4 separate regions of the Homo sapiens genome follow, and regions 1, 2 and 4 are each linked to region 3. The links come from fine-mapping of genetic effects on gene expression. A gene starts in region 3. Each other region holds a variant in brackets. All regions are shown on one strand. Distances are from middle to middle. Region 1 overlaps VPS41 (VPS41 subunit of HOPS complex). Region 2 has its middle 64 kb from the start of YAE1-DT. Region 3 holds the start of VPS41 (VPS41 subunit of HOPS complex). Region 4 overlaps VPS41 (VPS41 subunit of HOPS complex).

Evidence for each region. PIP is the estimated chance that this variant, and not a neighbour inherited with it, causes the effect.
Region 1: its variant is the best candidate, but not a certain one, in a credible set for the expression of VPS41 in hypothalamus (GTEx, PIP 0.78).
Region 2: its variant is the best candidate, but not a certain one, in a credible set for the expression of VPS41 in neutrophils (BLUEPRINT, PIP 0.70).
Region 4: its variant is the best candidate, but not a certain one, in a credible set for the expression of VPS41 in pancreas (GTEx, PIP 0.72).

Annotation. Positions count from the first base shown.
Region 1 is chr7:38,816,861-38,824,980 of GRCh38, forward strand. It overlaps VPS41 (VPS41 subunit of HOPS complex), which reads right to left. Exons shown (of 29, transcript NM_014396.4): 6 at 4,343-4,405; 7 at 957-1,022. Among named protein-coding and RNA genes, the nearest start is that of VPS41, 88 kb to the right of the region's middle. The variant A/G (reference allele first, on the strand shown) is at 4,473.
Region 2 is chr7:39,498,364-39,506,483 of GRCh38, forward strand. No RefSeq gene overlaps it. Among named protein-coding and RNA genes, the nearest start is that of YAE1-DT, 64 kb to the right of the region's middle. The variant T/G (reference allele first, on the strand shown) is at 4,122.
Region 3 is chr7:38,906,228-38,911,227 of GRCh38, forward strand. VPS41 (VPS41 subunit of HOPS complex) reads right to left here and starts at 2,964. Exons shown (of 29, transcript NM_014396.4): 1 at 2,927-2,964. The coding sequence starts at 2,947. RefSeq lists an enhancer at 2,972-3,071.
Region 4 is chr7:38,783,253-38,791,372 of GRCh38, forward strand. It overlaps VPS41 (VPS41 subunit of HOPS complex), which reads right to left. Exons shown (of 29, transcript NM_014396.4): 10 at 6,549-6,615. Among named protein-coding and RNA genes, the nearest start is that of VPS41, 120 kb to the right of the region's middle. The variant A/G (reference allele first, on the strand shown) is at 3,483.

The DNA.
Region 1 (8,120 bases), 88 kb before region 3:
TCAGCCTCTTCAATAGCTAGGACTAGAGGCATACCACCACACGCAGCTAATTTCTTCATTTTTTTGTAGAGTCGGTCTCACTCGTTGCCCAGGCTGGTTTCAAACTCCCAGCCTCAAGTGATCCTCCCACCTTGGCCTCCCAAAATGTTGGAATCATAGGAGTGAGCCACCATTATGCCCAGTCCAATCTCTTATTTTTTAAATAGCACTGAGATAATAAAATGTGCCATGAACATGTCAGCGAAGAGTAGCCATAACTGCTCTAAAAGTTTATCAAGGCCCGCAAGAGATTTTCTACAAGGAAAAAAAAAATCGGAAAAAAAAAATCAGTAGTTTAAGTGTGCTTTTGTTATTTTTAAATGCTGCCTCTTTTTTGTGGGAGGGGCAATGTTTCAAAGCTCTAGATGTAACAGCTCTCTTATTTTCTTGTCCTATATCTACTTCAAAGAAATGTAGCAAGAGGCTGGGCGCAGTGGCTCACGCCTGTCATCCCAGGGCTTTGGGAGGCCGAGGAGAGCAGATCACCTGAGGTCAAGAGTTCAAGACCAGCCAGGCCATGTCTTTAGTAGAGACATGGCAAAACCCCAACTCTACTAAAAATACAAAAATTAGCCAGGCACGATAGTGGGCATCCGTAATCCCAGCTACTCGTGAGGCTGATGCAGGAGAACCACTTGAACCCAGGAGGCGGAGGCTGCAGTGAGCCAAGATCACGCCACTGCACTCCATCCTGGGCGACAGAGCAAGACTCCGTCTCAACAAAAAAAGCAATGTAGTGAGAAACACTGAAGCCACAACTCCCCCAAGAGATGATGATCATCAGATTTCATTACATTTGTCTTTCTCGAATTTCTCCTAATGAATAGCCAGACATAAAAACATTAAGGATAAATTACAGAGTAAGCACACAACACCCCTCAAGGCTACATATCAAGGTAGAGACACACAGCACTTACCTTCTTCCCTCCGGTCACAAACTGCTTGCAACTGGATCTCACGAAATGTGGGTGCACAGCAATAATCTACAAGAGAAACAGAACCCAACTCTGGTTTAGGAGTCATGGCCAATGCACAGAATGAAAACCCCTGACACAGTTCAAGCAGCATGATCTAAAAATTATCCTGAAACCTTGGTAGGAAGTAATATATTCAAATCATATTTTACAACAACTGATGACATCTGAGTTTTCTTCTTACGTGAAAAGATTTCTTCTCTGAAGCCAGGTCAAAGCTCAAAGAGTAGGATAAGTCAGTTCTAGTTTCTGGCTGAGGACCCCTATAAGTGGATGTCACCTGTATAGAGGCAGCAAGGGAGGTCAAGGGAGGTTGGTCAAGGTAGCAAGATGTCACAACTGTTTCTAACTGGATACAATTTACAGAAAACAAAACAAAAAAAAAAAAACAGAAAGAAGCCAACTAACTCCTTGTCCAAGATGACTCTCAATGATAGACGGCACCAAGTGGCAACGCAGCCTCCCAGACGTTTAGCCCACTTACACCAAGACCCCATCAATGGAGAGAGAACAGAGCTACAGGCCCAAAGAGCTAACCGTTCAGGACTTAGCTTTTTAGATACAACCTGTTCCCCTGATTCTCATCTGCTTCCCACTCATCCAATCTTTCTCCAGCCCCTTGCTACCCAGGTTTCTCTTAAGGTTGCTCCACCACCCTTGTTACTGTTTCCTTCATTTGCAAGGGCTTTATGATTACATAACATCATTAACATCTTGGGGAGGGGATGAAAACAAAAGCCCTCGTGGCTCCACTCAGTGCACCTCCATCTTTGGAGCTCATCTGTTGTGGCTGTAAGCTTGCATAGACTCCACCTCCTTCTCTCTTTATCCCCAAACCACCCATGAAATCACCAACTTAACTAATTTTGTGTTTTTCTAATTTAACATAGAGAATTTTTTTTAGGTAAACACACACACAAAATCTCACACAATTTTACTTCTATATACCTTCAATTAAACATATTTTATACTTGTATTAATTGACACATTTCCCTCCTACAATGGAATAGATTCCTCTTCCTACAATGTCATTTTTAAGGATTAGCATATGATCCTTCATTGCTCTAAACACTCCTACCTCCCAGGTTAGCCCTTCTTCCCTTCAACACTTTCCTAATCCATCCTCAATACCAGTAGTGAAGGATTCACACATTCTATTGTTTCACATTCTTAAACTCTCCCCCTAGCTCTCTCGTAATGCATAACTGTAGATCAGGGACTGATTCCAAACATCTCCTCTGCTCCTCAAACACATTATGTTACCCTTTTCTTCCCTTCAGATGTAAGAAAATAAAGCCATCAGGGTCATTGCCCACAAGTGCTCCTCCTTCACTGTCTAACTTGCAATAGCTAGGCTCAGTCCACTTCCTTCATGCCTGTTTCACAGGCAGAGGGTCTAGGACTCTTCCAAGATTATCTTCCCTACCTAAGCTGTTGATCTCATTGCTTAGTGCTGCTCCAAGAAGCATTCTCTTTATTTTTAATCTTTTCCTCTTCACTGGTTTTTGCCATGAACCAAAACATGGTCGGCAAAAACCTTCCCAGGACACGGCCCCTCTCTCTACCAGATGATCTCTCTTCTTTATTACTAAATTTCTTTAAAGAAGAGTCTCTGCTGATTGTTTCTACTTCCTCATCTCCAATTTATTCCTTCATGTATAGTGACCCTCCTGCTCTGAAAAGAGTCCTCAGCAAGGTCACCAGTAACTTCAAAATCACCACATAGAATGCCCTTGTTTCAGTCCTTCCCCCTATTTAATCTCCACACTGCATTCGACACTGCTGACCACTTCCTCCTTGTAGAAACCCTCTCTCCCCTGGCTTCTCTGACACCACTCTTCGGGATTCCTTACAGTCCCTCCAACTGCTTCTTCTTAGACTCCTTTGCTGTTTTTTCTTCCACAGCCTGAGTATTCAAGTTAGAGTGTTCCAGAATTTCACCATCAGTCTTCTCTTCTCACTCTACAGCTCTAAATTGGATAATATCTTTAAAAATAGCTTCACCTTATTCAACTATGGTTATCACGTTTGTGTTTAAGGGCCAATCTCCATCCTGAGGCCCATATTCATGTTTCTAAAACCTCCGTAACGTCCCCACCTGATGTACTACACTTATCTAAACTCAGGACCAAACTAGCCTAGCCATGTCCTTACTCAAACATACCCTACTGCAACTGATGGCATCCCACACCCCATCCCCAAAGCGAGAACCTGAACTGACCCTGAGCTCTTCCGTCTTTCATCACCCTCATCCAAGCCATCACTAAGGCTCGCTAAGTCTATTTAGCACAGGCTGTCCAAATAAATTTCATCCTTTCCATCTTGAACACTCACTATCATTCTTTTCATTGAGATCCTGTAATGCCCTGCCTAGAGTATTATATTAGGCTTCTAAATTGTCTTTTGTCCCCAATCACTCTCCTGTTTAAATCACCCTCCACTCTGGCAAATTCAACTTTTTAAAACATACATCAGACCCTATCTCTCCTTTACCTGCTGGTCAATAAATGTTTGAATAAACAGGTGAAAAAAATAAATGACCTCTTCCTTCAACAACTATAATAGACACCTCAACTACCATAATTTTTATCTAAAACTAGTCCTCTTGACTCTTATCTGTCCTTCAATCAATACTGTATACAGTCACCATATTAATTTTCTTAAAGCTTAGTTCAGTTTATTTACTTTGTTCTTAAATATTTAGTAATTTCTAGTTATCTACCAAATGGAGTCCAAATTCTTCAGCCTGAATGTAAAGCCAGCCCAATCTTCCTTCACATTCTCTTGTGAAATCAGTCTTTTATGTACCAAATAAATTGGACAATTTGCCATTTCCTGAACACAAGGTGAACTTTCTAGCCTCTCCATTTCTATTATGTTGTTCTTCCACATGGAAAGCCAGCTTCTCTCATCAGTCCTTCTCCATTTATTAAAGCCAAGTTAAACATCACTCCACCAATGAAGCCATCACTGACAAGAACAGCTAAAAGTGATTCCTTTCAGCTTTGGAACGCTTAATATTATTCCTACCTCTTTGAGTCTTTTACCACAGATCGTGTGTGTGTGTGCGTGCGTGTGTGTGTGTATGTGTGTGTGAGTGATCTCACTCACTATAATAAAATACCCCTGAAGACAGACTGAGATCACAGTCACAAAATACACATTCTGTCTTCTTTCACAGCATCTAAATAGTATCCAGTACATCTGAAGTGTTGAACAGACACTTACTGACAAAATTAATACAGAAGTGGTAATGTTCAAATTACTGTAATCCATATTGCCTTACTTGAGAAAACCCTTAGAAAAAGTAAAACTTGCTGAATACTTACTTTAATGGGACAGTCAAAAGTCTCGTGAAATTCTTCTCCAGAATACAGTCCAAATACCTGCACCTACAAAGAAAATGGATTGTATCAGCTCACCATGACAGCAATAGAGAAGGCTACTGAGTCAGTATGA[A/G]CACATACTATCAATAAGAAAAGTAGAATATTTAATAATTTTAAGGCCCCGTGACCTCTATTAAATATCTAATGAAAACAATCCCATCAGCCACGTACGGTGGCTCACGCCTGTAATCCCAGCACTTTGAGAGGCAGAGGCCGAGGTGGGTGGATCACCTAAGGTCAGGAGTTGAAGACCACCCTGACCAATATGGTGAAACCCCATCTCTACTAAAAATATGAAAATTAGCCAGGCATGGTGGCGTGCATCTGTAGTCCCAGCTACTCAGGAGGATGATAGGAGAATTGCTTGAACCTGGGAGGCAGAGGTTGCAGAGAGCCGAGATTGCGCCACTGCACTCCAGCATGGGTGACAGAGTGAGACTCCGTCTCAAAAAAAAAAAAAAAGAAAAAGAAAAAGAAAAAAGAAAAAAGAAAATCCCATCAGGTTGAGGGTACTTTGCTGCAATTAAGCTTTCATAAGCATTCCATGGATAGAGTTCCCTTCAATCACCACAAATTGTATTAAATGCATGCCATTAAAACAATGAAACAGATTTGAACAAGTTATTACTATTCTTTTATAAACTTCCATAAGCTGTCCCTAAAGGAACTATTTTTTCATCCCTTAAAGGAAAGGGGAGATTTTTTTTTAGTGTCTCTCATATATATAAAATAAACCAACCATGTAGATCAGTGTGGTAAGAGATTAGGTGAACCACACTTCACTCACAACTTATGCTAAATCTACTGAGAATACAGAAATGAAAGATTTAAGTTCCTGCTTATCAGTGTCTCCCTTAAAGTTGTTCCAGGCTACTTTATTCATACTTAGTATATTTTCTGAGTGCTTTACTTAACAACAACAAAACAAAAACAAAACTGAAATATAAAACACATGCTATAAAAAATACAAATCATAAATTTATAGTTTGATGAATTTTTATGACACGAACATATCCGTGTAACCATCACTCTGATCAAGAAATAGAAGCCAATAAGCTCCTTTGTTTCCCTTTCCAGTAAATAACACCCTCCAACTAATCACTACCCTCAAAGCTACTGGCATGGATAAGTTGTGCTGGTGTTAGAATTTTGTAAGTAAGGAATCATATTCTATTTCACTGATTTATTTCATTCATTATTTAACATTTTCTTTGTGAGATTTAGCCACACTGTTGGATATAGTAGAGGTTGCTTCTTTGCCACTGCTGGGTATTATTTCATGTATGAATATATCACAATTCACATATCCATCTTCCATTGATGACCACTTAGGTTGTTTCCAGATTGGGGCTATCATGAATACTGCTGCTAAGAACATGCTTTGCAAATCTTTTGGTGGACTTATATACATATTCATGAAGGGTGTATACCTTGGAATGGAATTGCTGAGTCATAGGTTATGTGCATGTTCACATTTAATAGGCAAACCATTTCACAAAGTGGTTTCAAATTAATTATGCTCTCACCATGAGAAAGTTTGAATGTTTGTGTTCCCCCAAATTCATTACGTTGAAACCTAACCTCCAAAGTGATGGTTATTTATACTCTCAGCATAAGAATTCCATGAGATCTCAAATGCTTGGAGCTAACAAATAGTACTAGAGCCAATGAGAACTATTTCCCAACATTGGAATGTGTTCACTGTCTTTCTAGTCTCTAGTATAGTGGTATTATTCTTCTTTAACTTTTGTAGGAATTCACTGGTGAAGCCATCTAGGTCTCATGGCTTTGCTATGGTCTGAATGTATGTGTTCTCCCCAAATTCACTGTGTTGAAACCTAACCTCCAAGGTGATGGTATTAAGAAGTAGGGCCTTTAGTGAGTGATTAAATTATGAAGGTGGAGCCCTCATAGGTGAGATTGGTGCCCTTATAAGAAAGCTTGGGGTAACTAGCTATAGCTTGAGGTGACTAGCTAGTCCTTTTGCTCTTCTGCCTTCTGCCACACAGGGACACATAATTCATCCCTTCTGCCATGTGAAGTTACAATAACAAGGCGCCATCTTGGAAGCAAGGAGAGCAGCCCTCACCAGATGCCAAATGCTGGCACCTTGAAATCAGACTTCCCAGCCTTCAGAACTGTGAGAAATAAATTTCTGTTATTTATAAACTACCCAGTCTAAGGTATTTTGTTATGGCAACACAAATGGACTAAGATAGTTTCTTTGTGAAAAGGTTTCCAATTATAAATTCTATTTGAAAAATAAATATAGGACTACTTAAACTTTCAATTTCTTCTTATTTTAATCTTGGTAAGTTCTGAGTGGTTCATTCTTTCAAGCCCCAAGCAGGAAATTCACTTATGTTATAATTTTGGGAAATAGATTCATGCATTAAAAGTTAAAGTTTTGGGGACCATCCACTCATTTTGTAACTACTGTTTTTATATACTTGTGCCAAGTTTGTTATTTGGGTTCTACAAACAGGAGATAATATAATGTAAAACAGAAGGAATTTCATTTTTCCTGAGGCTGGCCTTGAAATGTATTCTTCACATGGCAAATACACATATGTCCCCCCCATCACCTGCTGCTCATTGTTCAGAGGGTATAAAGTCATTACTTTTATGGAAATATATAGGCATAGGATAATATAACAAACATCTTATAAAATAATGGCTAAAAAGCACAAAAGGAAAGCACTGCATTCAGGGTTTCACTTTACCTGGGGAAGTTTAACTTGATGGACCCCAACAAATCTAAGAAAATCAGGTGAAAAGAAGGAGGTTCCTGAATCATGGGAATCTTAATGGAGTGAATCAACAAATGGCCACCTTGATGAAGCTACCTCAGTATGAATACCTGCTCAACTAGCAAGCTGAACTTCTCCTAACTTAATCTATTTCTTTTCAGTACAATAAGGTCATGTACTGCATGGTCTTGTGCTAAATCTCATACTACTGCTACTAACTTACATCCCTAAATGTGTCAACATGCTTTACCTTAGTGGTTCTCAAACACACCTGTACAGTTAAAATTCCTGGAAACTAATGGCCAAATCCCACCCTGAACAAACAAACTCAAACTTTCTGGTGAGGCGAAATGATATTTTTGAAGTCTGCACAATTGGCAATGTTTTGCTGTTCCTCATTTGGTCCTCATAGCAAAACTGCTAGGTCTAAGAGCAAATACCATTATGCCTGTTGAACTGATGATTCTATAGAAAAATGACTTGCCTAAGGTCATAAAAATCATAAGCAGAAGAGTTAGAACCAGAACCCGGATTTTCTAAATCCTATTCTTCTACATGCTATCTTTATATAGGATAAACTGAAATTTGCAAAAAAGAAAGATATCTTTTTACCTAAAGTGTAAGAAGAGTAGAATAGAACAACAACAAAAAAACATTCAAAAGCCTTAAATATGTGCCAAACTGAAAAGAACATGAATATCAGACTTTGAATTAAGGACACTCTATGACAGAAATTGAAATTAAATGAAGCTGATTATTCATTCAAATGGATAAACTTCCTTCTGCCTTATAGATGGAATAAAGAAATTTTAGAAAAAAAGTGATTTCTATTATGCAGAAAAGTATATGAGATGTAAACAAATGATGCATAAGCCTGTAGAAAAAGACTGACAGATCAGTAAATGTGTGGATAAATACTGGGACTGTGGATGTAATGCTGAAAATTAAATTAGGAATTGCTGAGGATAAAT
Region 2 (8,120 bases), 590 kb after region 3:
GAGTACAGACTCCATGAGTGTAAAAAAATCAATACTTGATGGAAGATTGCTCCCCGGAAAATCTGTTTTGATTCCAGGATTAATTCGCGACCAAAGGCTTCTGCAAAATGACATGCCATTAGTCAGAAAATGAACACATTCTATCCTTGAAATTGGATGGAAATATGTCAGCTGATTGACCCATTCTTTCTCTTCACTCTCTGGGCAGAAAGAGTGGGTGTGGTAGCTGTGTGAATTAGTGCCCCAAACCTGGTCCATTTTCAAAACAGGATAAAAAATATATTTTTTTAAAGTCCAATGTGAATTGTGAGTAGTCTCTAGGCCATTGTTGGAGAGCTATTGCAAATGTGTTTCATCAAGGCAAATGCATTTGTCTGGAAGGCCCAACTCTCCTGAGTTTTCTATGCCTCAGAATCAACCCTGCTAAGAATCTGAAAATAAAACAAGGATTTTCCCCCTCAAAGCAGTGACCTGCAATATTAATGACAATGCAATTTCTTTGTCATATATAAAGTAACACTCCTCACACTCCTTGTCTGTTAGGCTTCTTCAACTAAAAACTTTTTGGAAGAAGCAAGTTACAGCTCTTCAGTTGGGCTAATGTCACAGGTCTTCAGGGCCTCTCCTTGTGCAGTGAGATGGGCAGCAGGGATGAATGTGATTCCACAGACTTTAACACATGTAAAAGTCACTCTCTTTATCTCCTTTAAATCAAACTCAATCTGATTCTGAAGCTATCAGTCATCATTAGGAGTGTTTCTTCCTCCCCACAATGATGAAAAGGCCCCAGGAGCTTTGACAGAACAAATGGTTCAGGGACACCCTTCACCCTTCTCATTATTTACTTATTTATTTATTTTATTTATTTATTTTTTGAGACAGAGTCTCCCTCTGTCACCCAGGCTGGAGGGCAGTAGCACAATCTCAGCTCACTGCAACCTCCACCTCCCGGGTTCAAGCGATTCTCCTACCTCAGTCTCCTGAGTAGCTGGGACCAAAGGCACACACCACCGTTCCTGGCTAATTTTTGTGTTTTTAGTAGACATGGGGTTTCACCATGTTGGCCAGGCTGGTCTCGAACTCCTGACCTCAAGCAATCTACCTGCCTCGGCCTCCCAAAGTGCTGGGATTACAGGCATGAGCCACTGCACCCGGCCACACACCTTCTCTTCTTCTATCTATTCCAGTCACCACTGATGGTCTCGTGGTCCAAGCCTGCAGTCTCTTGAAGGCACGTGGTCCTACTATTTTACTCAGGCACAGAAAACCTTGTCAACCTTGGAGTTCTGGCACCTAGATTCAGACTTCTCTCTCCTCTCCACTTCCACACACCCACCAACTGCTCTAAAAGACACACATGTCTCTCTCCTGTTTCTCCTCCTCCAGTCTCCTCAATAAGCTCATCATTGCAAAAACTAACAGAAGAAAAAGAAGTTGTTTTCCAACACCAAGTTATCTGGCCTTTTTGCAAGTGAGCACAAATTCCTTGTTTGCTTTTTGGAATTTGGGAGGGGGAAATTAAAGGAAGACGAAACCCACTTAATATATTAATAATTCATATATCTACAGACACACCCTGAAAGGCGAGTTCTGCAGCATCTCCATCAAAGCTTCCCAGGCTGTCCCTGCCTCTGCCCACTGAGACACAGGCCTCATCTCCTGGGAGAAAAGGGCATTTTAATCTACTTGCTGATGTCCTCTGGGCCTGCACCATGGCTGCTAACAGTGTCAAACATGCTGAATGTGTGGAACCAGAGGGGGGTCACGACATCAGCTGTTTGTATTCATTTCGCTGGGAGAGAATTTGCCAAGGTGAAGCTCACCTCCTTCTCAGAGCCCTTTCCCTGCAAATACCAAAGACAAAGACAGAAATCACACAGCTAACAACCAGGTGGCAGAAACAGTCCCCTCAGGAGAGGACTTACGGGACTGAGCCTCATTACTCATGGTGACTTCATTAGAATCCTTCACTCGGAGTAAATGAAGATGGCAGGAGATTGTCTCAAAACCAGCATTTAAAAAAGAAAAGCTTCAGCATTACTGCAGAGGCACTGGTACTCCAGAGAACTCCTTGTTATCCCAGCTTAACAGTTGGCCCTCTGGACTATAGTCTGTGTTGACAATATTCCATGTTCAGGGGGGAAAACGAACCTTACAGAAGAAAACAGATGCCAACAACCAAAGATGGCATATCAGCCAACATAAGGCATGTAATTTCAAGACTTCAATTTGCCAGACCAGCCTGAGCCTTTAGGCACCCGAATTAGTGGCCCCAGGGTGCAATTACAGTAGCATGAATCTTCGCTCTTTAAAAATGTGTGAATTATTGTGAAATGAAATAAATAAAGTAAATGACTAAACAGTTCTATCAGAAGGTTTTCTCACAGTTGCTTGTAAATGGGAAGAAGAAAGTATCGAAGTCACATTAAACACCAATATGTTCTAGTAACACATAATAATCATGTTTATTCTTTTGCATGGTTACTGATACGCTAGGATTATCATAAGCCAAAAATAAAACTTCTGAACAAATGGAAAGAAAACTGTCAATATCCAGTCCCCTCTAAACATGAAAAGATCAGTTTCAACTGGAATTAAGACCACATCTCTGAAACCTTTCCCAAGTAAATAGAGATTGAAGAAGTTGGCGTTATAATTGACTACACCATAACATTTCCCCTTTCCCACAAGGATCTTAAATATTAATGCTCAGTTGCTGAAAATCTCTCTCTCTTATTTCTATTTTTGAACATCACAATCTCATAGACTAGAAACACACCCAGCCTTTGCACAGCAGAACATAGGGACTGGAATGCCAGATAAGAAATCCAGAAACTTGGCTCCTTTGGCCAAGTCTTCCATGAGCTCAGAATTTTAGGATCTTCTACAAAGTACAAGACTTTCCTAAATCATAGACAATTGGAAAGATTTTCAGATCATGTTCTCAGAACTCCTCGTATTCTCTTTTGCACACACATTGAAGAACACACACACGTGTGTGTGTGTGTGTACACACAAGTTGGGGATGTGGTAATTTATGCGTTGAGGAAGAAGCATTTGAAGTAAGTGCTGTGGTATCTCCAAATGTGTGAATGGTAAAATGATTACTGAAAATGATGATTAGGTCCCCTCTGACCTTTTCAACTCTAAGGCAACTTGATGCCACAATGTTTGACTGATGAATAATGTTTCATGGCAGAGCTTAAATAACAGTGACTGTGCATATCCTTTGTTTATACTCAGATAAACCTGAACCAAACCAGCCTTGAAACTCTGTTGAAAGGGAAAGAAGATATTCGAGATGCAGCTGCAACTAATTCAAAAGAGTCTCCTTAGGCTGGGTTCAGTGGCTCACACCTGTTATAGCGCACTTTTGGAGGCTGAGGTGGGTGGATCACCTGAGGTCAGGAGTTCAAGACCAGCCTGGCCAACATGGTGAAATCCTGTCTCTACTAAAATACAAAAATTAGCTGTGCATGATGGCAGACACCTGTAATCCCAGCTACTTGGGAGGCTGAGGCAGGAGAATCACTTGAACCTGGGAGGCAGAGGTTGCAGTGAGCCAAGATTGCGCCATTGCACTCCAGCCTGGGTGACAGAGCAAAACTCTGTCTCAGAAAAAAAAAAAAAAAAAGAGTCTCCTTAAACATTCTGAAAGCATAGAGCTCTTGGTTATTCTTCTCGCCAAACTATACAGTGAAAATGTGGAAGTTTTAGGACTGGAAGATGAAAAGATGGTTTCTAGAGAAAGGTCTTACCCACTCTTAAGTAATATCCATATGTACCCTCTGAAAAATCACTGACTTATTTGAATCACTTGTATTCAATCTTTTGAATGACCAACTTCTGCCCAAATAACAGAATCCACAGGGAGGCAGTAAAACTTAGTAAGGCAGCCATAATCCCCCAGGTGGGCCATTTTCTGGTCTGGAATGTTTTGTCCTTAGCATTGTTTAGTGAGGGGTTAAAGAGATGTAACCCCTAGAGGGTTAGCACAGGCAGAATTGCAGACAGCCCAGAGCTCCATGAGGAGAACCTGCTCTCCTGCCACCTTTTCTTTGTCCTCTGGCTTCCCAGTCACACTCAAAAGGCTGGGGGTCATGGAGGCCACTAGAGAGCTG[T/G]GAGGGGAGCTGCCACAGAGTCCACTCTAGGTGCACAAATCACTATATACACACACACACACACGCTCTCTCTCTCTCTCTCTCTCTCTCTCTCTCCTTCTGAGATGCTTTCTCGGCTATGGAAAGGATAGCCATGCCGTTGGCGTCAGAGCTCAGTTCAACCCCGGCTATATCGCTCCCGCCTCCACTTTGGCTCACACAGTTCTACTTTTCCTAATTAACTTGACTCAATGTCCTTTCCCTTCTTTCCACCTCAACAGCACTTACCAGGCACACAGACAAACATTGTTCCTTGACAATATTTTTTGGAGGTCTTTGCTGTAAGTTGAAGCATGAAGCATCTCAGGAGATATAAGATTTGACATCAGACTGAACCTGAATCAAGCTCTGATTGGGAGACCCTTGGAAAAATTACTTAAACTTGCTCAGCTTAACTTACTGGCCCATTAGCCATCTGAGAGAGAGGCCTTTTTCCAAAGATGGTCTTTAGCACTGCTTCATAACAGGTGCTCAATGCATCTTAACCCTCCCCCTGCACTCTGGACCCTTCTCCATGTGCCTACTCCTTGTCTTTCCAACTATAGTGTGAGCAACTCCAATGGAGTGACCACTTCTGTTACCAGGCGCTTCTAAGTGAGCACGGCATGGTTTGATGTTAAAGATAAATGGGTCCAGATCCCAGCTGCCATTCTCTGCCCTTCCTGTGAAAGTTGGAACGAGTTATTTGACCTCTTGAAGTACCAAATTCCTTATCAACTGGGGATGAAATAATCATCATTCAAAGGGTTGATGTGAAAAATCCATGACATGAGTACCTAGCACATTAAGGGCACTGAGTAGGTGGCCCATAAAAGAATCATCTTTTTCCTAATAAATGTTCTTTCATTTTATAAACTGTATCTAAATAATGTTTCTGGGCCAGGTGTGGTGGCTCACACCAGTAATCTCAGCACTTTTGGAGTCTGAGGTGAGTGGATCACTTGAGGTCAGGAGTTCAAGACCAGCCTGATCAACATGGTAAAACCCCATCCACTAAAAATACAAAAGTTAGCCAGGCATGGTCATGGGCGCCTGTAGTCTCAGCTACTCAGGAGGCTGAGGCATGAGAATCGCTTGAACCTGGGAGGTGGAGGTTGCAGTGAGCCAAGACTGTGCCACTGCATTCCAGCCTCGGCAACAGAGTGAGACTCTGTCTCAAAAATGAAAGAGAGAGAGAGAGAGAGAGAGAGAGAGAGAGGGAAAGAAAGAAAGGAAGAGAAAAGAAAAGAAAAGAGAAAAGAAAGGAAGGAAGGAAAGAAGGAAAGGAAGGAAGGAGAGAGAAAGAAAGAAAGAAAGAAAGAAAGAAAGAAAGAAAGAAAGAAAGAAAGAAAGAAAGAAAGGAAGGAAGGAAGGAAGGAAGGAAGGAAGGAAGGAAGGAAAAGAAAAAGTTAATTTCTGGCAGCCCCTCAATACCAAGAAGGATGAAATTCACTTTTGAGTTTGTGATTAAAAGTTCTCCCAAAATATGATATCTCCCCATTCCTCGATCATTGCAGGTCCCTGGCCCAGAGAAGAGCAACTGGACGAAGCATACAGCAGTCTAAACCCAATTCATTGAATCAAAAGACAGCTATTTTTAGTATTTATCTTTCACTCCAATTTCTCCCTTTCTTTTCTCCCCAGAGTCATCTTTACGGATGTAGCAAGAAGTCAACCTTAAGAAAAAGTCCATTCACTCATTCACTGTTCTAAGTGTTGAAAGGGATATACAGATGAATTACAAAAGCAAGAAAAGAAGATTGGCTGGATTATGAAATTCCATAAAGAAAAGCTTGAGTAAATCTCACCCCCAAACTACATTTCCTCTCCAAAGCCAGACCAATGAAACTTTGGATGATAATAAGATTTCAGCCTTGAAGTTCATTTAAGGCATTTTTTAAAAGAATTAGTTTGTGAGCTTTTCTACTTTGTCTTATAAAAGACAGTGAACTTTATGTGTGACTTTCCATCAGAGTTTGCAGATGTAGCTCATGGGAGTTAATTACTTTTTCTCTTCAATTTCACCTAGCAAGATAAAACAGAGCTGCCCAAGAGTTTTCCTATAGCAGGGTGACTGGTCAATACCTTGCTACTTGCTCTGTCAATGCCATGAAAATATTGTTTAATAATTTAGGAACAACCATGTAATTTTCTTCCCTAGCAAGAGCAAATTAGGCACTTACTAAATAATTGACAAAAATACTTAATTCTAGGGATTTCTTGAGAATGTGCTATTATTCAAAAAGAATTTAAAATAAAATTTTCTTTCACCTATTCAACATGTTACTTTCATTTTCATGCCTGATCATATCTTGAAAGCTATATCCGAGTTTGTCCCCCCAGTCCTGATTTCCTTACACCAAGGTGGTCCACAAGTGAACATGTCAAGAATGCGTGTGCTGTCCTTGGTCAAGACCACTTGGAAAGGTGGCTGGGACTTAAGTGTGTTAGACAGACCCCCTCTCCTCCAGGCCTGTCCCCACCAGGGATGCAAACAGGTGCACCAAGAAGTTTGAGTCTTTAGAGTTTTAATCTCAAATCTCAAATGATGAGACATTCTCATCAGTGGTACTCAGACTTGGAACCCTTTGCCCTGGCCATCTGCCAAAGTGGCTGCTTACTCATCATCAGGCTCTTGGGCAGAGGTCTATCTGTTCAGTCAGGCATTCTAAATATCCCATTTGCGGACCTTCAGACAGTTTACTTGACACTTAACTACCAAAATGCCCTGGGTACACTTACGATGCCTAGGGCAGCATATTAACCCATGACTCTTTACAAGTTAAAAGGTTGGGGAACGAGTAGTACCAGGTCTTTCTGCCCCTATTTCAACAAGCAGCCATTTTCTAGAATGTTCTCTTCTCACTGTATTCTCCCAAAAGATCAAGTCCAATAATAATACTTTATTCAAATAAGAGCCACCTCTCTCTCTCTCTCTCTCTCTCTCTCTCTCTCTCTCTCCCTCTCTCTCTCTCTCTCCCCCTCTCCCTGTCCCTCCCTCCCTCTCTTTCCCCCCCAGTATTTCCCCCATTGACCTACGATTGGGGGAGAGCCTCAGTTTGCCTCCCCAGCACCATCTATACCATCTTCCTTCTGCCTGGCTCATGAACACTGCAGTCTCCCTAGGAGATAACATTTCTTCAGTTCTCATTATGTGCTGAGTACTGTCTAGCCCCACTGGCAGCAGAGTGAGGGGCTGTTCCAGAATCCTTAGTTATAGAGACCCAAAAGTAATTCTGTATTATTCTAGGGACTACCTTTATGGAGACTGATACACAAAACCAGAATTTCAGCAGAGGACGGTGTTCTAACAAGGCCTACCTCTTGGATTGTGAAATCCAGGCTACTTTTTACATAGGGCATCATGGTCATATATACACATTACTGCAATCAAAATAATTAAAGAGTACTTTCGTCTTTTCCTGAATCTCTCAAGGAACATAAACACACCCAATAGCACTTCTTTAAAAGTGTTGTTCTTTTCCCCTCTTATTGTCACACATCTTGTGGCCCTTCAGAAGTGTTTCCTCTACAAACCTACAAACCTCCCTTTCCTAATTCCATGCCCCAGGTGTTCTTGGCATCTGCCCTGTCCAGGCAGTTTTGGTTTTTGTTCCCCTCCCCTTTTCCTTCCCCGTCTCCAATCCACCTACCCTATCACTAAAGCCTGCGAACATGGTTGACAATAAAAGCCTAGAGTGATAAATACAAAACTTGTGTTCTAGTGAAGGAACACAGACAATAAATACATAAGCAGTAAACCAGAATTATCAGATAGAATATGTTTTCTGATAGACATGGTGCCACAAAGAAAACAGAAGATGGTGAAACAAGAGAGCTGGGAGTGGGGGGACAAGGCCACTGCAGATTAGAAACAGGAAAGACATTTCTGAGGACGGGATTTGAAAGCTGACATCTACGTGACAGGAGAAGGCTAGTCTTGCAAATATCTGGGAGAAAAGTTCCCTAGGAAAAAGGAAC
Region 3 (5,000 bases):
AATCTATAAAGGATAAGATTAGGTACAATTACTTACTTTCTTTTAAAAAAAAGAACTGAACAATTTGTGAATGTGTCTTTCAGCCATTTACAACAGACTGCTGGGTTTTTTTTTGTTTGTTTTTCGTTTTTTTTTTAAACAGGGTCTTGCTCTGTTGCCCAGACTGAAGTGCAGTGGCACGATCATGGCTCACTGCTGCCCCGACCCTCTTGACTCAAGCAATCCTCCCACCTCAGCCTCCCGAGTAGCTGGGACTACACACCACCATGCCTGGCTAATTTTTGTAATTTTTGTAGAGATAGGGTTTTGCTATGTTGCCCAGGCTCGTCTCGAACTCCTGGGCTCAAACAATCGCCCCACCTTGGCCTCCCAAAGTGCTGGGATTACAGGTATGGGCCATTGTGCCTGGTCCACGACTAGTCTTTTTAAGATACTGACACCACTGGAGAGGAGAATGCCCACTCCAACTACATATTGGCTGTTAAAGCATCAAAGTGGAATGGTGGCTTGAGGGAAAATCATTAAAATGGAAAGGGCTAATTCTACTTCATAAAGTAAAAAAACTATTTAGATTTAGGTTCTTACATATATTTTAAAAAGGTAGGGTATTCTAGTGAAAAGTCATGAGCTATGGAGACAGAGGACTGGAGATTTATTATATTATAGATATAAGCCTGAGCACGTTACTCAAGTTGCCTGAATTTCAATTTGTTTATCAGTAAAAGTCAATCATTTAACACAAATTTATTAAGTAACAAGCAATATTCTAGGTATTGGACATACAGCAGTGAACAAATCCTTGTCAGGATGTTCCAAGCTCTGTGGTAAGAGGTACACAGAAATATACAGGGAAAAAAAAAAAAACAAATTTTATAATACAGTATGTCAAACGGTGATGCACATTATAGGGAAAAATAATGCAGGAAGGTTTCAAAGCATGGTCAGGGAAGGTCGCAATGAAAAAGAACACTTGGACAAAGACATGAAGGAAATGAGGAAGCCTGTAAATATCAGGGTTCCTCAAAAAGGAACAGCATGAGCAAAGAGGCCCTGAGATAGGAACCTGCCTGGCTTTTTGAAGACTAAGAGAGCCAGTACAGCTGATGCAGAGTCACAGAAGGGAAGGAGAGTAGTGGGAAAAATGAGGTCAAGAAAAGGTGGCTAAGGGCAGCTGGGTCAAGGTCCTGTGGGACAACCAGGCTACCGTAATGGCTGTGGCTTTTCCTCTGAATAAGATTAGAAGCCCCTGGAAAGTCTAGAATATCAGAGGTGTTTCACCCATGTATGAGAGTAAACATTTACCTCATAGAATTCTTTTGGGAAGACCAAATGCAATATGGAAGGGTTTTTAAAACTAGAAAATAATGTACAAATGTGAAACATTATTATATCCCTAATTTTGTATGTGTCATTTTTATATCAGACAACTTTGTTAAATTCTTCTTCTGCACTAAACAGTGGTAAATATTTCATAGGTTTTTTTCAATGGAAGAAAAAACAATGGTTTTTCTAGGAGCAACTCTCTCCATTTCTATTCCACTATATCTAAGAACATATGAAACTCAGTTTTTTGCTTTCAAATCAAACCATAAAACAAACATTTCAACATGAAATAAAGATGCACAATGTGAAAAACAATCTCACCCTTATTCAAAGGAGCAATGGCAGTCATGAAATGATATGTTCTTAATGAGTGTTTTCCTTTGAACTGCTAGAATGGAAATAGGAGTCTCTAGTGTTAGATAAGAGACTTTGTTATCTTGTTATCACAAGGACCAGCCAAACCAAATTTCTACCTAGTCAAACGTCTCAATTATTGGCATATATAAAATATATACAGAACAAATTTTCACTATGAAGTAAAAACAAATGAAGTATGTTGAAAATAGTAAAAATTATTGAACTAGGTAAATGACTCTTATGATACTAAACAGCCCATCATCAAGTCACTGTTTAGAGACAATGACTGCAACTGACAGCCCTGTTAACTTGTGAAGAAAAACAGTATCCAACTGAAATAACACTGGAAATGGAAACTTAAGTTATCTCCCCCAAGTTCTAGCCTCTTTTTTGGTCTGCTTCTCTTTTTTGTCTTTTTTATTTTACTTCGTCATTTCATAAAATGTGTGATTACCACTACTGCTATATGAAAATAATTCATATTCCCATCACCAATTTCTACCCTAAACTTCAGTGCCACGTTGCCAGTTGTTGACTGGATACTACCAGCAACAAATAATCCCATTTAATTTTTACTAAGCCCAACAGTTCTAAGTACTCTAACTTTGTGTATAAACTCCTCTCTCCATCTTAAACCACCCTCTGAGGACGGCCTTATTATTACCCCCATCTCACACTGGAAAGTTAAATAAGTAGCTCAAAGTAGCACATTGGGTAAGAAAAGGAACCAGCACTTGGACCCCAGGCATTTTTGCTCCAGAACGGATGCATTTAATCCCTGCTGCACCGCAACAGTGCTCCAGCTCTGTACCTAACTCCAATAGATACAAAACAAAACTCATCGTCTACTCTCTCCTAGTTCTTATTGTCCTACTTCAAGTGGAAAGCAACTTAAATTTCAGTCACCCGGCCTCTCTTCCTCCTCCCACAGGCAGTCAGTCCCTGAGGTAGCCGGGCCTGCCTTCATGCCAAAATTTCCCTGGGCAAAGGCCACAGGGATGGGGCCCGAGGAAAGGCAGCCCGAACGCGGGGGTGTGTCAGAGCGCTTTCCCTAGGTGCCCTCCCGGGGCTGGCATCCTCTCTGCTCCCCGAAACCAACTTTCGCCATCCCACCCCGCCCTGCCGCGGACCTGCCTTGCGCTATTCCAGCAGCTCCGCACCTCCACCCACTCCACTCCACCCTCCCCAAACAGCCCACCCTAGTCTCTATATCCCTGTGCCCTCAACTACCACCTGCACCCTTTACCTGCTCCTCTGCTTCCGCCATGGCGCCACGGGAGAGTCACCTGACAGACCCGGAAATAAGAGGAAACCACACACTTGGCCCAGGGCCTTCTGGGAAATGTAGTTTTAGCTTCATCTGAGCCTGGAAATCTCTTCTAGGGGACGGACCTGCTAGGGTTCATTTCTGCTGCCAATTCTCCAAACTCAATGGAATTCTGCTTTGAAGGATGTGAACATAACCATTGCTAATACTATAGCTTATTTTATTGTTGTTCTTGTTTCTCTAGTTATTCTAGTGTTTATTAAGCACTTACTATGTCATGCCCTGGGTTTATAGCTTTGCATAAATTATCTCATTTAATCCTCACAGCAATTCCTACTATCATCCCCATTTATAGGGGAGAATACCGTAGCTCAGAGGTCATGCAGCTAGTAAGAGGCAGAACTAGTAATAGAATTCAGCCCTGCCTGATGCCAAAGTCTCTGTGATTGCCAAATGCTGCTTACTCTAAAAGTGTTCTTGTCCTTTTTTCTCTCTCTTTTTTAAGTATATTCAGTGAATATAAAGCAGTCTTTGCAGTGGAGAGTCAGAGAAAATTTATACGCCAACAAATAATATCATTATTTTTGCTTGCTACTTTGTCTTCTCCTGTCATATGAACATTGATTTAAAAAAAATCTCTGTTGTTTAATAAATTAATTGTTAAACTTTTGTTGAGGATATTCAATAGGTAAATGTTCAAGTGAAGACACAATATGAAGTTGTCCTTGGTCAAAATCTGCACAACCACTGTATTACTTCCAGCCTTCAGAATGACTGATTCCTTCTCCATGTTTCTGAACATTATGAATTCTGTTTCTTAACCCTCAGGAATCTGCAGCACCTTGTCCAAAGACAGACATTTTACAATTTCCATTCACTGGAGTAGCTGGTGACCAGCAGAGGGCATTGCAAATGGCAGCATGTGGTGATTGCCTCAGTACCTTTTTTGACTCCCTGTGCCTCATTGACTCTGACCCAGTAGGAAGTCATGGACTCAGTACTCTGTCTGTAGCTTGCTCAACCCATGATTCCTCAATGGCCCAGAAGCCAAGGTGACATCATCTCTGAGACACCTGTCTTCTCCCCAGGGCCTAAACAGCCTTACCTCCATCTTCTTCCTCCAAGCCTTGCTGGGGTTCCTCTTCCAGTGGGCTAATCACTCAGCCGACAGGATAGACCACCCTGAGGCATTTAAATGTCTATAAGCAGCCAGGTGCAGTGGCTTTCACCTGTAATCCCAGCACTTTGGGAGGCCAAGGCAGTCAGATTTCATGAGCTCAAGAGTTTGAGACCATCCTGGACAACATGGCAAAACCCTGTCTCTACAAAAAATACCAAAAATTAGCCGGGCATAATGGTGTGCGCCTGTAGTTCCAGCTACTCAGGAGGCTGAGGTGGGGGTTAAGGCTGCAGTGAGCATTGATGGTGCCACTGCACTCCAGCCTGGGCAACAGAGTGAGACCCTATCTGAAAAAAAAGAAAAAAGAAAAAAGAAATCCATAAGCAAGCACCCAATGCCCTAAGTATAAACCTAGGGCAAGTATAAACCTAACCCAAGAGTTTCTAAAATCTCTTGCAAAGCAGCCCAGGGCCAAACATTGCTCATGATGAACTCCAGATCCCAGAAAAACTTTAATACAGACCAAAGAGACTGTGGAAGCCCTCAGTCGAGTATCCACGGGAAAGAGAAATAAAATGAGCTCTTCCACTTTTCTGACTTTCCTCACAAACTCCAATTTTCTCTTTTCTGTTATGAGTGACAGCCACCCATAAACCTCTAGGACTACAGCCTCTCCAACTGGGCAATCTCCTCTTCTATGCTGAATGGATGAGATTGGGATGAAGAAGGAAAATAAGGGATTATTACCACTGTCTTAACCACAAGGTCATTTTTGTTTTATGGTTCCATTTTATTTTGGTGAGAAGTCAAGCAGCCCAAGCAAGCAAAGCTGAAGGCCATCCACTCTGGGCCTTCCTGGCCTTTCTACTTTTCTGGAATGAGAATGTTTATTCTCTTTCTCAAGAAGGGTGTTATGGGTCTTATTAAAGATAT
Region 4 (8,120 bases), 120 kb before region 3:
TAGGCCAGGTGTGGTGGCTCACGCTTGTAATCCCAGCACTTTGGGAGGCCAAGGCAGGTGGATCACAAGGTCAGGAGCTCAAGACCAGCCTGGCCAAGAAGGTGAAACCCCATCTCTACTAAAAATACAAAAATTAGCCAAGCGTGGTGGCAGGCGCCTGTAATCCCAGCTACTTGGGAGGCTGAGGCAGAGAATTGCTTGAACCTGGGAGGCAGCGATTACAGTGAGCCGAGATTGTGCCACTGTACTCCAGCCTAGGCAACAGAGCGAAACTCTGTCTCAAAAAAAAAAAGAGATAATTAAAATACCACATGCTATGTGCAAAAACAGGAACAGGTGTAAAACAAAAAATAGCACAGCGCAAGAAAATTTAGCTTCTGAGGAGGTACAGATGAGGGTGGAAACAGCAGCAATAATCATGACCATAAGCCCCTTAAGCCAGAAATGGTGTGGATAACATGAGAGAAAACAACCTCTTCGTTTCATTTAAAAAAAAAACTGTTTAAAACCCTAATGGATATTAGATTACAAAGGATAAAAATCAAAATTTGTTTAAAGTAAAAAACCATCCTCCAATAATTCCCAACTAGGTTATCTCACTTCTTATCTGTGTATTCAAACCTATGAGACAACATTAAATCAATATTTTTATTACTTGTACCTCTGTCATATATGTTTATAGATACATTTTATTGAGAAATGCAATTATAAAACATTATCAATCTCCTCGGAATCATTCAGTAAACCCTTATTTACATCTTCCCCAAATTGTCTTTAAATTACAAATTTTATAAAACACAATTTTCAGATCTTCTGATTTTAAAAGAAACCACTATTTTTCTCTCTCACTGTAACTAAATATAATACTAATATTAATAATAGCTCCCATTTAATGAACATTACTATGCTGTGAGGCAGTATGCTAAATATTTACATACAATATTGCTTTTCACCACAACCACCCTATGGTTATTTTAGAGAGGGAAGGAGGCTCAGAGGGGTTAAGTAACTTGACTAAAGTCACTTAAGTGGAAGATAAGAGAAGTAGGAATCTGAAGTCCTATTTTTCCCAACCATAAGTCACTCTAGAAAATGTAAGTCAGGGCCGGGTATGGTGGCTCACGCCTGTAATCCCAGCATGTTGGGAGGCCAAGGTGGGAGGATTTCTTGAGCCCAGTTTGATACCAGCATGGGCAACAAAAGGAGACCACATCTTTACAAAAAATTAAAAAATTAGCCAGGCATGGTGGTGCACGCCTGTAGTCCCAGCTACTTAGAAGGCTGAGGTGGGAGGATCGCTTTGGCCCAGGAGGCTGAGGTTGCAGTAAGGCGTGATTATGCCACTGCACTAAAGCCTGGGCAAAGAGCAAGACCCTATATCGAAAGAAGGAGGGGGGGAGTTAGGGGGAAGGAGGAGGGGAAGGGGAAGAATATAAGAATACAGAGATGCTTAGATTCAAAGCACACTGCAGTTGGCAAGAACAGAAGTGAGGGCTCTCTGGTGATTCTGCTGCATGCAGTCAGGGTGCCCCAGCCCCTCTCTTGAATTTGCAGTGCTGCTGCAAGGGCTAAAGCGCTGCAGTACACAGAACTTGCACTGCCTCTTTTCCCCCATTTCTTATTCCCTTATTGGTCCCCAAATGTCCATTAGCTAAATGCTACCCAGATTTCTTTATTGAAGTTAAATAAGGTGACATCCCATAGATCTTAGCTTCTATGATTCTTAAAGAAACAAACAAAAATGTGTGTCAAGCAATTTACAAATAAGAACAATTACCCTTCATTGTCTTATATTCATTTATGAAAATGCATTGAGGGCCCTTTATGATAGATAGTGTCTTATTCCCAAGAGATTCTGGCCCCTTAGTCACCAGATATTAGTATTTTATAATCAACTGGATGTAATACCCACAGACTTTTCAATAAGTTTAGACATTCTGTCAGCATGACCACTTATCACTGAAAATACATTTGGAAATAACGGCACTTCAACAGCTTCAGGCTGTGCTAAGAAGCAGACACATTAAAGTAAAACTGACTTCACAATGCTTTACATCAGCAAATTATGGAGAAGATCTGCTACATGAAGTGAAATTGAAAAGAATGGCTAATGGACAAAATAACAAAAACATTCAAATCAGACAGGAGCCGAACAGTACACACAGATAAAAAACTGCTGAAAACAAATTTAGTTTGCAATTTAATTCCGTATTTTATAATCAATATTCAGCAAACTATTGTCAATTAAATGACAACACTAAGCTGATAGGATTATCTCATCTACCAAATTTTAGTCTCCTGAAACAGCACTGATGAGGAATATTTAGTGAGTATGTTACAGCACATTGCTTAGACAAAAGAAAAGGAAAGGCATTGCCAATGACCTGCTAATCACAAGGTTCAAACCAAATGTTACACTTTATTTTATAAATATAAAACTACCTTGTTGCATCAACTAAACTTAAGCTAAACACTAAAAAATAGCAAACAAGGGCTTTTCTTCTTTTTAAAAGGGCTGAAAGAAGCATAATCTAAGTTTGGTTCCCTTTCCTTAGAAACAATTCCAAAGGTCACCCAAGGCAATCAGGTTCTATAAATTATCTAAAAATGTGGAGGAGAAGCAATGAAGAAAAGCTCTCAATCTCAGGATAAAGCAAGTGAAAATATAATTTCTAAGTCTCCAAATGAGATATTTCTCTGAACCAAAATAAAAAAACAAATCTACTGCATTTCCATTTCATCTGGCAGTTCCTAGAAAAGGTGAGCAGCTATCATCACTGATATAGAAAAAGGGTCTTCAGATTCTAGAGCATTTCTGCAGTGGTCTGTATCTGAATGTCTGGAACAAGACTCTGTAAACAAAGGCCAGGGGCTGGGTAGAGGAAACATGGGAAGCACTGTGTGACACCATGATTACAAGCAACAACTTTACGGCTAGGCACACCTAAGTGCAAAAACTGCCTTGTTTATGAATAATCTTGAGCAGGTTACCTAACCCTTCTGAACATCAGCTTCTTCACTTACACCATGGGGATAGTAGCCGCTACCCACTCGCATACTGGGAAGATTAGATGACCTTCTGTTTGCAATGTATTCAGCACTGTGCTTGGTGGTGGTTGTTATATAAGGAACAATATATATTTGTTACTTCAGGTGCTTCAGATTTCTTACCATTACTTATTATGGAGAAACTTCATTAATTCCACTCCTAACAACAAAAACCTGAGTCTACACTACTGAGCGGGGAAAGAGTTGTTACATCCCTCCCAAAAGGAGGAATGAATAGATGAACAGATACGTAATAAAGCAAATATAGTAAAATCTTAACTGCAGAATCCTGGAGGTTCTATTCACTACAAAGTTCTTTTCTTTAATGAAAATTTCATAACAAAATGTTAGAAAAAAAATTCAATGCAGAACAGATTATTACAGAAATTTATACTGAACTATCTATAACAGAACAGAAAACCATACATACCTAG[A/G]TCCTCAAGTAAAAACACCTTGAAGAATGCCAGCTGTCATCATTTCTATTGAGACTCAGACTAAGAGATGAAACCACATCACTCCTGGGCACACACACACAAAGATCCCACTACTGTAACCCATATAGCTGAATCAAAATGGTAACAGGTGGATAAAGAGAGATACTTAGATCTAGGAAAGAATTATCTCACAACTCTCCTCCACTATGAAAACAGATCACCAATTTTCAGGTCACTGTTTTTTCAGTCAATTAAAAGACTGAAAAAAGAATGATGTGCTAAATTCTAAGACCACAGTATATGATCAATGAAGATACAGACAATACTGAAAGTAAAAAAGATTTCCCTTCTTTTCTCTTCCCTTTCTTCCTGACTTGTCATTCTATATAGATTCTCATATAGTTGTTTAATCTCAATTAAACAAAATTCCACATGAAATTAAGACCAAGAAGTCAATCATTAATTCCTTGCATGTAAGTCAACTACCCCTGGCAGAAAACTCCCAGAAAATGACACACAAACATTGGTTTCATTTCCCAACATCATGATGTCAGCTCTCCAACTACCATACCACAGAGATCATGGAAGACTTTGGTGAAAAGTACCAGAGGCTCAGGGAGTCCTGTGAGAATACAAGAGATGCAAGTGAAGTTAAAACATGGATGCTAGGCACAAACCATAATCTATTTTTAACAATGCAATTTGAAAGAAAATATGATGTCCCAAAAGCCCTATGTATAGAGAATCTCTTCATGTGTTGGTGATTGGCCAAGAAGCTTAATCTTCATTATATTATTATTATTTTTCATTTAACAGAATAAATCAACAGCCTATGTGATAGGAATAACTTTCGTGCTATTTTTGAGAGTCTGAGTTGTAACAGAAAGAGTTATAAACAATTGGCTTCTAAGAAATGTACAGCCATACGTATTTCTTTAATCTTAATGCCATTTTCACCTCATTTACCAAAGAACAGTGGCTCACACTATTCAGGGCTAAAGGAAATTGTAATCCAGACCTCCTAATATTTCCCTTTCTGTTATCCTACTTAAGGACTCTTATCCAAACTATTTTGCCTCCTGCTGTGGAAATGGCTTATATTCTTAAAGGTTTACTCTTAAGAGGGGAAAAAATGGTACTTAACCATTAACCATAGTAGTAAAATGTCAGTAATGTGATACTGTTAGTATCCACATATGGTCTATTTCACGTAAATTACAGTACAGATGAACCACACTGCAATAATGTGATCCCAGGGTTCTAGGCTAATAGGGCCACCACTGAGCCAGCTATCAGCAGTCACAGAGTTGGGATGAAAGTCTGCATAGTGATAATAACCATCATGGTTTAGTGAGCATCTACTGTGTGCCAAGTACCATGTTAGGCACATTTCTTATGCCATGTCTAATTCCCACACCCATCCTAAAAGATAGATATTATCACCTCCATTTAACAGGTGAGAAAAGGATGGTCAAGAAGGTTAAGTAACCTCATCAAGATCACACACTTCAGCAAACTTCCTTGCCTCCCTGGAAGCTTTCTGGTGGTTCTGTAGAGTTAGATTCTATCCATTTTTAACGCTATAGTAGTAAGATCCTGGACAAGTCATTTACCTCCTAAGCCTCAATTTCTTCATCTATAGAATAAAAAGCAAACTACCTGCACTTAAAGAGTTCCTGTGAGGATAAAGTGAGTTACTGCAGTTTATGTAAGCAGCACAATGCCCTCCACCTAGTACATGATCAATAAGTATCAGCTAAGGAAAGAAGATGACAATTGCTACATTTTTATACCTCTCTGGCAATTAAAAATATCCAAATACTAATCTCTCAGGACATTGCATTGAGATGTTGAGAGGCTTTTGTTTTTCTTTTTATTTTCTAGTAGGCAAGGAAAGAAGAAAAAGATATTGAAACAATTATCTATATAGTCTAGTCATAAATCTTGTCTCTTATCTTGGTCCTCAGTTTTTCTCAGCACTGCTACATTCTTCATATACCTACTGTCCATACACTAAGCAATCTGAACTATGTAGTTATACTCCTAAAGTTAAAAAAAAAGATTAAAACTCTACCACCAACTTCTGACTTCAAGTACAAAATAGCCCAGATTTAAATGTTATAACCACATTAGTCATGTGGGTAATGTATGTCTTTCTATTTACAGAAATACAATCATGTGCAAATAATTTATTTCAACTTCACCTTGGCAGAATAACCCATCAAATTGATATTACCCATCCACCAAGCAAATGGGCAAATGAACTTTTCAGCTGACTCATAATATGGCAATTTTTTTTCTCAGATTAATTTTTTCAAACTAAATTATAAAAGTCATGGTACATCATCCAGGGCATACTTCTCCTGAACAGCTGTTTCCCAGAGTCACTGATTCATTCAACTCAATATTAAGCACCTTCTATGTGCAAGTATTGTGCCAGGTCCTCAAGATACAAATGGTGAGCAAAAACAGACCCTGTGTGTGCTCAAAAGGAGGTGACAGTCAGGTAGAAAAGACAGAAATGTATCAAATAATCACAGGATCACTGGAACCCGTGACAAGTGCTAGAAAGGGGAGGAGGCCTGCAGTGCTGTAGTGCCTAAAATGGGAAGACCTGACTCAGTCAGGGAGGTCCAGTGGCTTTCCCAGTGCTTTCCCTGGAAAGCAACACTCTAGCCAAATACTGTGCTAGACAAGGGGAAAGAGAGGCATGGACAGGTAAAAGGTCAGTGTGGCTGCAGCACAGAGACCAAGGAGAAGCTTGGCATAAGCTACAGCTGGAGAGGTGGGTAGGGGCCAACACAGATCCCCGTGATCCACTGAGGAGTTCCATCTGCACTCTGAGAACGATGTGGAGGAACTGAAGGATGATGACAAGATCTGATCTGTATTTTGACAGCAGTGGGGACAGCAGATGACAGTAATTCACAGTGGAAGAAGATAAACCAGTTAGGAGGCTGCTGCAGGGATCCAGGCAAAAGACTATGGCAGTCTGGGTGAGATTAATGAAGACGAAAATTTTGAATGAAGTTTTACATCCACAGAAGGCAAGTGTTGGAGCCATACCTATTTCAACATATCGACTTGGCAAATCCCTCATTTCACTGGCATGCCGTTCCTTCACTGAGCACACCTGGAAAATAAGTTCGCAGGTTATTTTATTCATTTGATGGAAAATTCTTCATAACATTTTATTCAGTATATGGTATCTTTGTTAAATTAACCTTGTAGCACTGCAGATGGAGTACAATCTACCCTATGACTTAAATGACAGAAATTAATGTAAATGACATATAGCAATCACTATTTATATTCACCAACTTTATTCCTCAATAAAGCCTGATTCACATAAGTTCAGCTTTCCTGGTGAGACTGAACCTGAAGTCAAGTACTAATCCAAGTACAACTTCTGTCAGTGATCAGGGATTTTTCCTTTTTCTTTTACATAGTGTTCTTTTATAGCTGCTACCATTAACTGTAACTATGGTATGGAAAATTCTAAAATATAGAAAAACTCAAAGGGGAAAACAAGCATTAGTCATTGTTCCAGCACAAAGAGAACACCATTAATAATCTTTTTTATGAAAGCTACTTTTATTAACCTAACAATTTAATACAAGTAATTCAATATGTTATTTAAAGATTCTTCTACAACATAATTCTGTAAAGTTGTTATAATACAGTGAGCCCTCCATATCCATGGGTTTTGCATCCATGAATTCTACATTCATGGATTTAACCAAACAAGGATCAGAAATATTCAGGAAAAAAAAAAATTCTACAAAATTCCAAAAAGCAAAACTTGACCTTGCTGTACACCAACTACTTCATTAAGTCTATGCAAATGCAGTGATGTGTAGGCATTGTATCAGGTGTTATAAGTAATCTACAGATGATTTAAAGTATACAGGAGGATGTGCATAGGTTATATGCAAATACCGCATCATTTTATATATGCAAATGTTACATCATTTATATAAGCATCAGAGGAGCCCAGGATCCACAGGGGTCCTGGAACCAATTCCCCACAGGCACTGAGGGATGATTGCCTTTTATTACATGAATGTACTATACTTAATCAACCCCCTTTGGGGGCATATTTTTTTGTTTTTATATCTATTGTAAGCAATAGTGCAATCAACATACTTATATATAAAACTTTAGGACTTTTGTTTACTTAGGATAAATTCCTAGAAGTAGAATTGATACCAATGGGTACATAAACTTTTGTAAGGTTTTGTTTTTTAATATACGTAGTATACTGAGTTGCTGCCCAGCAACACTGCAGCGACTCAGTGAATGCAGAGTGCCCACTTTCCCTCAGGCGGGGCTTGAACCCATGGCTGCAGAGGTAGAAGCCTCCACATAGAAGTGACCGGCTGTCTTCTTCCTTGATTGCTTTTTGCCATTTGTCTCTTGTCCGTTTCATATAACTGCCTGTCCACTTCTCCAATTTTCTTCCCTTCTGGTAGACTTTTGAGCTTATAAGTTATCCACTCTTCTTCCCACACTTACTAGGGAAACTACTAAATCATCTAATGGCACATTCCACAATGCCAAATGGACAACTGTTTTAATGTGCTGATATAAGTACATGAGGAACAGTCTTTCAAATGGTTTGAAGTATAATAAAAAAGC